Linked DNA regions of Homo sapiens. The protein of the gene in region 1 purifies or fractionates together with the protein of each later gene. This does not show direct contact. Each region holds a gene or a part of one and is shown in the gene's direction. Other genes may lie near its edges. The genes, in order: PARL and CCDC92.

Region 1 (3,814 bases):
TGCTCTGTTTCCCAGGCTGGAGTGCAGTGGCACGATCTCAGCTCACTGCAACTTCCGCCTCCCGGGTTCAAGCGATTCTCCTGCCTCAGCCTCCCGAGTAGCTGGGATTACAGGCATGCACCACCATGATGCCTAGCTAAGTTTTGTGTTTTTTGTAGAGACGGGGTTTTGCTGTGTTGGCCAGGCTGGTCTCGAACTCCTGGTCTCAAGTGATCTGCCTGCCTCTGCCTCCCAGTGTTGGGATTACAGGCTTGAGTCACCATGCCTAGCCTCAAAATATCTTTAAGTAAGATACTTGACATATTAGTCAATCGTATATATTATATTTTGTTTTAACTGACCATCTATTAACTCACGATGGGGTCAAGAAAATAATTTTGTTATGCCAGAGTTTATGTAGAATCCATCCTCCCGCCCAGTATCTTTTGTATTTTTTAGAGGCGAGTTGTTCTGTCACCTAGGTTGAAGTGCAGTGGCACTATCATAGCTCACTGCAGCCTCAAACTCCTGGGTTCAAGGGATCCCCCTGCGTCAGCCTGCCTGGTAGCAAGGACTACAGGTACACACTACCATGCCTCGGGCTCTATTTTGTTTTAAGTGGAATGAATCTAATCAATTGTGTGTGCTTAGACACATTTTGTCTCCATTTGAACATTAGGCCATTTCTACTTAATTTGTTCATACAAATCTTGAGTAACATAAACATTAACACTGACCTGTATATTTAAGTTGTATTGTCTTTACCGTTGCACTCTTAAAAACAATGCACAGGCTGGGCATAGTGGCTCACGCCTGTAATCCCAGCACTTTGGGAGGCCGAGGCGGGTGGATCACCTGAGGTCAGGAGTTCTAGACCAGCCTGGCCAACATGGTGAAAACCCGTCTCTACTAAAAATACAAAAATTAGCCAGGCACGGTGGCAGGGGCCTGTAATCCCAGCTACTCGGGGGGCCGAGGCAGGAGAATCCCTTGAACCCAGGAGGCAGAGGTTGCAGTGAGCCGAGATTGCATCACTGTACTCCAGCCTGGGGGACAAGAGCAAGACTTCATCTGAAAAAAAAAAAAAAAAATGCACAAAGGCTGTGCGGTGGCACAGGCCTGCAGTCCCAGCACTTTGGGAGGCTGAGGCAGGAAGATCACTTGAGTCTAGGAGTTTGAGACCAGCCTGGGCAATATAGGGAGACTCCTGTCTCTACAAAAAGTAAAAAAAATTAGTGGGTATGGTGGTGCTGCCTCTGGTCCCAGCCACGTGGGAGGCTAAGGGAGGAGGATTGCTTGAGGCCGGAAGGTGAAGGTTGCTGTGAGCTATGAGGGCGCCACTGTCCTCCAGCCTGAGTGAGAGAGTGCAACCCTGTCTCAAAAAAAGACCCAAAAAATAAAAAACCAAAACATTTATGAGACTGTATTGTAACTATTAGGTGAACACATATATTGGTGTAACTTTTTCTTCTTAAAAGTTATAGGATTGTATTAAAAAAAAAGTCTGAGCTGGCCAGGCACAGTGGCTCATGCCTGTAATCCCAGCACTTTGGGAGGCTGAGGTGGGTGGATCACCTGAGGTCAGGAGTTCGAGACCACCCTGGCCAACGTGGTGAAACCCCCTCTCTACTAAAAACACAAAAATTAGCCAGGTGTGGTGGCAGGCGCCTGTAATCTCAGCTACTTGGGAGGCTGAGGAAGGAGAATCGCCTGAACCCGGGAAGCGGAGGTTGCAGTGAGCCGAGATCACGGCATTACACTCCAACCTGGGCAGCAGGAGCAAAACTGTGTCTTAAAAACGGAAAAAAAAAAACTGAACTATAACTGTGGCTGGTGGCAACTTAAGTATTCATGACATCCTCCCACTTTGAGCACATTTGATTGCTTCCCCAAATCACTAGTTCCTGGCAGAAGGACCAAAGCAGCAGAGTCAAGGCAGGCCTGCTGTCGTGAGTTGTCATATGCCTCAAGGGACCCTCTTTCCCATCCCCATCCATTTTATTGCGGCGCTTCACTTTGTTTTCCAACTTATTCAGGTAAGTAATTTATTTCCCTGTCTTATATACCCATCTGATTGGGAAGAGGTGAATAACCTAAACCTGTGAATAAGATAGCAAACATTTGCAATTAGGGACATTTATCATGCTTTTGCTTGTTTCACACTTTAAGAAATTTAAGGCTGGGTGCAGTGGCTCACTCCTGTAATCCTTTGGGAGCACTTTGGGAGGCCGAGGCAGGCAGATCACCTGAGGTCAGGAGTTCGAGACCAGCCTGGCCAATATGGCGAAACCCTGTCTCTACTAAAAATACAAAAAAAAAAAAAAAAAAAAAAATCAGTCCTGGTGGCAGGCATCTGTAATCCCAGCTACTTGGGAGGCTGAGGCAGGGGAATCACTTGAACTCTAGAGGCGAAGGTTGCAGTGAGTTGAGATGGTGCCACTGCACTCCAGCCTGGGTGACAGAGCGAGGACCTCCCCCCGCCCACCAAAAAAAGGAAATTTAAAATGAAAGCTCATTAAAAAGAGAAAATGTACCTTATATAATATGTAATAAACATACTACATCTAAAAGCATCCTTATTCCAATAGAAAACCAAACTCTTAACTGACCTAAACAATTAGGGGAATTTATTGGTTTATGAAGTTCAAAAGTGTAGAGGTAGGACTGGCTTCTAGCGAGACAAGTCCAGTGTCTCAAATTGTCACCAGACACCATTTTCTCCATGGCTTGTCTCTGTTTCCTAAATGTTGGCTTTATTCTCTCAGCATGCTATCTCCTTGTGGTTATAAGATGGCTGCCAGCAGCTCTTGGGGCTATATATTTTTAGGTGCAAATCTAGCAGAAAAAAAAGTTGTCTTCTCCGTTATCACAAACAAAATCTTGAAATTGAATTTCACTGGACCAGATTGGCCTAACTTGGGACAGGTGCCCATCCTTGAATCCCTTGAAGTTGCCAAGGAATGGGATGTGAAATTTGGCTTAAGCCAATCGTGGGCTTGGTGTGTCTCATCAAATGAAATGGCTGGAAATTCTAGAGTATGGTTTGGAAAAGGAGAAGAGGGCATGGATGCTGGGAGTAAGTCGTAGTGAAACATTTGTATTGGAATTCTTTATTTGGTTACCTAGATAGGATTAATCTGTGGGACAACAAACCATTCTAATTTAAGTACAAGTATTGTTGGAAGAGTGAGGAATCAGGTTCTAGCTCCTTGCTATTCCAAGTGGTTCATGAACTAGCAGTTTGGGTATCATCTAGGACAGGGGTTTGGCAAACTTAGTTTGTAAAAGGTCAGATAGAAAATATGGCCGCATGTGGTCTTTGTCGCATATTCTTTCTCTTTCTTTTTAAACAACTCTTTAAACGTGTGAAAACCATTCTTAGTTGGAGACTCAAATCCACTCTATAGGCCGCAGTTTGACAACCCCTAATTTAGGCGCTTGTTTAGATATGCAAAATCTCAGACTCACCTTGCCCCAGACCTACTAAATTACAATGTTTTTAATGAGATTTCCAGGTGATTTGTATGTAAACTAAAGTTTCCCCAAACCTGTGGTATGAATAGATCTTGACTCTGGCGGCACATGAGAATCACCTGGGGAGGTCTTACAACTACTAAGGCCTTGGGTCCACTCCTAGACATTCTCATTTGTTATGAGGTAGAGCCATGGTGTAGGACTTTTAAGAGCTCACCAGGCAGTTCTAATGTATAGCCAGAATTGAGAATTACTGCTCTAGACTAGGAAGCATAACTGCCTCTGCCACATCTAGTGTGGTAGATAAAACACCATGGCCACAATATTTTGTAGTTCTTATCCAAAGCTGGAGTCAACTTCC
Region 2 (3,814 bases), on another chromosome or scaffold:
CCTTTTAGGGATCTGTCTTGAATGCTCCTTCATGTTTCTAAAGCATCTCTGATACTGAATTAAGCCTCTTGGGACCAACTCCATTTCTCCCTCTGAATTATGTGCATCTCCCGGCTGGGTCTCCTCAGCCTAAACAGGATGCCTCGGTGGCTTCAGTCATGTCACAGTACTGGGAGCATGACATCATCACAATGATTACCTCTCTTCAGTAGTGAAGGATCGCAATGGAAAACACCACTGTCTTTTCAGCCGTGAAAACTCTTTTGCCCTCAGAAAGCCAGTGATATTGTTACTCTTTTGAGCTGATGAGAAAATAATTGAGTAATCTGGATGCCATTTGGAGATGTGTTTTGTTTCCCTGGCCCCAAGTGGACCTGCCTTATTCAGGAATATCCTAACAGCTGTAGAATGCCCTGCACAGATGGCGTCTCCATGTCAGGGCCTTTTCAGTCAGCACAGAGTGTGGAAGAAGGGGAGAGCGACAGTCAGTGAAATGCCCCAGGCCAGGAGACCCTTGTCCCCCACTGTGAGGGCTCCGAGTGGCTCACCAGCGCTCACTGTGGAGCTCTGCGCGTTACATGGTCACACTCTCCCTGCTCGCCTGCCGTTTCTTCTCCAGGCTGTCTGCCCATTATAATGGGACGCTTTAAGGACGCTTTTGTATTTCTGCAGTTAACAGAGTGGATTAATGACACACAGCGTTGTTATAATTCAAAGTTGCTGATTGACCAAGGCAGTTAGAGTATGAATACTTACTAAATCATATTTAAATTTGTTACAAATGAAATGTAATACCACACTATGATAGAGATGGCTGCTGATAACATTTGTACTCCATTCCCCTCTGCCCCCGTGGGAGAGCGTAGAAGAAAATACTGACATCTACATATAGGCACATCCCATTTTGTGCCATCATGGCGGGTGAGGTGGTCATCTCATTTCGGGATGTTTTAGTATATCCCGTTTTCTTTGAGCAAGGTGTGCCTGTAAAGGAAGTGTGTCCGGAATTGGTGGGTTCTTGGTCTCACTGACTTCAAGAATGAAGCCGCAGACCCTCGCCGTGAGTGTTACAGCTCTTAAGGTGGCGCATCTGGAGTTTGTTCCTTCTGATGTTCGGATGTGTTCGGAGTTTCTTCCTTCTGGTGGGTTCGCGGTCTCACTGGCTCAGGAGTGAAGCTGCAGACCTTCGCAGTGAGTGTTACAGCTCATAAAAGCAGCGTGGACACAAAGAGTGAGCAGTAGCAAGATTTATTGCAAAGAGCGAAAGAACAAAGCTTCCACAGTGTGGAAGGGGACCCGAGCGGGTTGCCACTGCTGGCTCGGGCAGCCTGCTTTTATTTTCTTATCTGGCCCCACCCACATCCTGCTAATTGGTAGAGCCCAGTGGCCTGTTTTGACAGGGTGCTGATTGGTGTGTTTACAATCCCTGAGCTAGACACAAAGGTTCACCACCTCCCCATCAGATTAGTTAGATACAGAGTATCCACACAAAGGTTCTCCAAGGCCCCACCAGAGTAGCTAGATACAGAGTGTCGATTGGTGCATTCACAAACCCTGAGCTAGACACAGGGTGCTGATTGGTGTGTTTACAAACCTTGAGCTAGATACAGAGTGCCAATTGGTGTATTTACAATCCCTGAGCTAGACATAAAGGTTCCCCACGTCCCCACCAGACTCAGGAGCCCGGCTGGCTTCACCCAGTGGATCCCACACCGGGGCTGCAGGTGGAGCTGCCTGCCAGTCCCGCGCCGTACGTTTGCACTCCTCAGCCCTTGGGTGGTCGATGGGATTGGGCACCATGGAGCAGGGAGCGGCACTGGTCGGGGAGGCTCGGGCAGCACAGGAGCCCATGGAGTGGGTGGGAGGCTCAGGCATGGCAGGCTGCAGGTCCCGAGCCCTGCCCTGCGGGAAGGCAGCTAAGGCCTGGTGAGAAATTGAGTGCAGCGCTGGTGGGCTGGCACTGCTAGGGGACCCAGTACACCCTCTGCAGCTGCTGGCCTGGGTGCTAAGCCCCTCATTGCCCGGGGCCGGCAGGGCTGGCAGGGCCGGCCCGCTGGCTGCTCTGAGTGCGGGGCCCGCCAAGCCCACGCCCACCCAGAACTCCAGCTGGCCTGCAAGCGCCGCCGCACGCAGCCCCGGTTCTGCTTGCGCCTCTCCCTCCACACCTCCCTGCAAGCTGAGGGAGCGGGCTCCGGCCTTGGCCAGCCCAGAAAGGGGCTCCCACAGTGCAGCGGTGGGCTGAAGGGCTCCTCAAGTGCCGCCAAAGTGGGAGCCCAGGCAGAGGAGGTGCTGAGAGCAAGCGAGGGCTGTGAGGACTGCCAGCAGGCTGTCACTTCTCAGAAGCACCTAAATAGGAAGCCCATGGAAACAAAAGCTTTTCAACCCTGAAGCCCTTACATTCCTCTGGCACCACAGCTGCACTCAACAGACTGGCACCAGGCCCATTCGTGGGCCTCCAGGGTGCCAGGCACTGTGCTAGGGCTTAGGGTGCAGCAGTGAACAATCTGGAGTCTGTGCGAGGAGGCGGGAAACAGACCCACACTTACAGACCCTCACAGAGACACAAAGACTAGAACTGGGGACAGGGTGGTAATGCACCCGAGTCTGGGGGCCAGGGCTTCCGGGAGGAAGTAAACTTGTACTGAGACCTAAAGGATAAGTAGACAGTGGAGACCCAGGAGAGGTGGGTGGGAGAGAGGCCTAAGAAGAGTGTTCTGGGCAGAGGAGGAGCCATGAGAGGGCACCAGGGTGGGAGAAGCACAGCCCAGCAGGGCACCCGGAGGAAAGCTCGTGCCACCTGGAGCCCTGGGGGTAGGAGAAGGGCCAGCGAGGGTGGCGGGGCCAGTTGCAGGGCCGGGCAGACCAGTCTGATTCTCAGAGCAGTGGGAACCATTGGAGGTTTTTAAGTAGTCTCAATTTAAAAACAAGATCACTCTGCTGCCACGTGGAGAGCAGAATGGAGCAGGTAGGAGAGGACAGAGGGAGGCTTTCTGGCAGGGATTTGGGTGAGGGTGAGGACGGCCTCAGCAGCGGAGACGGGGAGAGTTGAACGGATCTGAGAGCTGCTTTCAAAGCAGGATGCCAGCAAGATCATCATGGACTGGAAATGGATGGCGGGGGATGCCAGCGTCAAGGCCACCCCCAGGTTGTGCAGCTGGGGACAGTGCTTGTGAGGGGTAGGACACTAGGCCTAGGGCAGCTCTCCTGTCATCCAAGACCCACTAAATTCTGGATCACATTTAAATGGTTCTTTCTCTTTGACAGCAAGCCACTAACATATGGGCTCTGCTTCTTCCATCAGCCAACAGAATCCTGGATTTGAGTCTGTCCTTTGAAAGCATCTCTGCTAGAGTTCCCACTTCCAAACCCCTTTCAGCTCTTCGGGATTCAGCCTCCAGGTGAGGTGCTGGAATTGATGCCAGAGTGAACGACTCCGGATTGCTGAGTGGAAGGAAAACGTAGGCACCGCTACTGACAGCTCTCAGGCGCTCCTGGGATTTTCCTTCCTTTGACGCTGAGGCTGTTCCGCTTTCAAGCGTTCTGCTTTGTGAGGGAAGGGCAAGGTCAGAAGGTGCTCACCCTTTCCACAGCAAGCACGCGGCACACGTGTGCCACACGCTGAACCTGCCTTGGTTGTAGCTGGCTCCTTTGTTAAGGTCAGCGCCCCCCAAGACCACGTGCTGTGCAGACAGTGTTGGGATCTCGGGAACTGTGGGGTTCCACTTAGAAACTAGTGTCTGGCCCAGCAGCCTACACAGGAGAGTTTGCGGTTACAGCACAGAGACGGTTTCGGGGACAGAAACATCCTTTCTCA

What was found.
Region 2: the proteins of PARL (region 1) and CCDC92 purify together in Homo sapiens (affinity purification with mass spectrometry; one large-scale study listed by BioGRID and IntAct). This does not show direct contact.

Annotation. Positions count from the first base shown.
Region 1 is NC_000003.12:183,878,378-183,882,191, reverse strand, and holds part of PARL (presenilin-associated rhomboid-like protein, mitochondrial isoform 1 precursor), read left to right. Parts: intron 1-3,814. UniProt on the Homo sapiens protein: Required for the control of apoptosis during postnatal growth. Essential for proteolytic processing of an antiapoptotic form of OPA1 which prevents the release of mitochondrial cytochrome c in response to intrinsic apoptotic signals.
Region 2 is NC_000012.12:123,945,288-123,949,101, reverse strand, and holds part of CCDC92 (coiled-coil domain-containing protein 92), read left to right. Parts: exon of another isoform or gene 1-3,398; intron 3,399-3,814.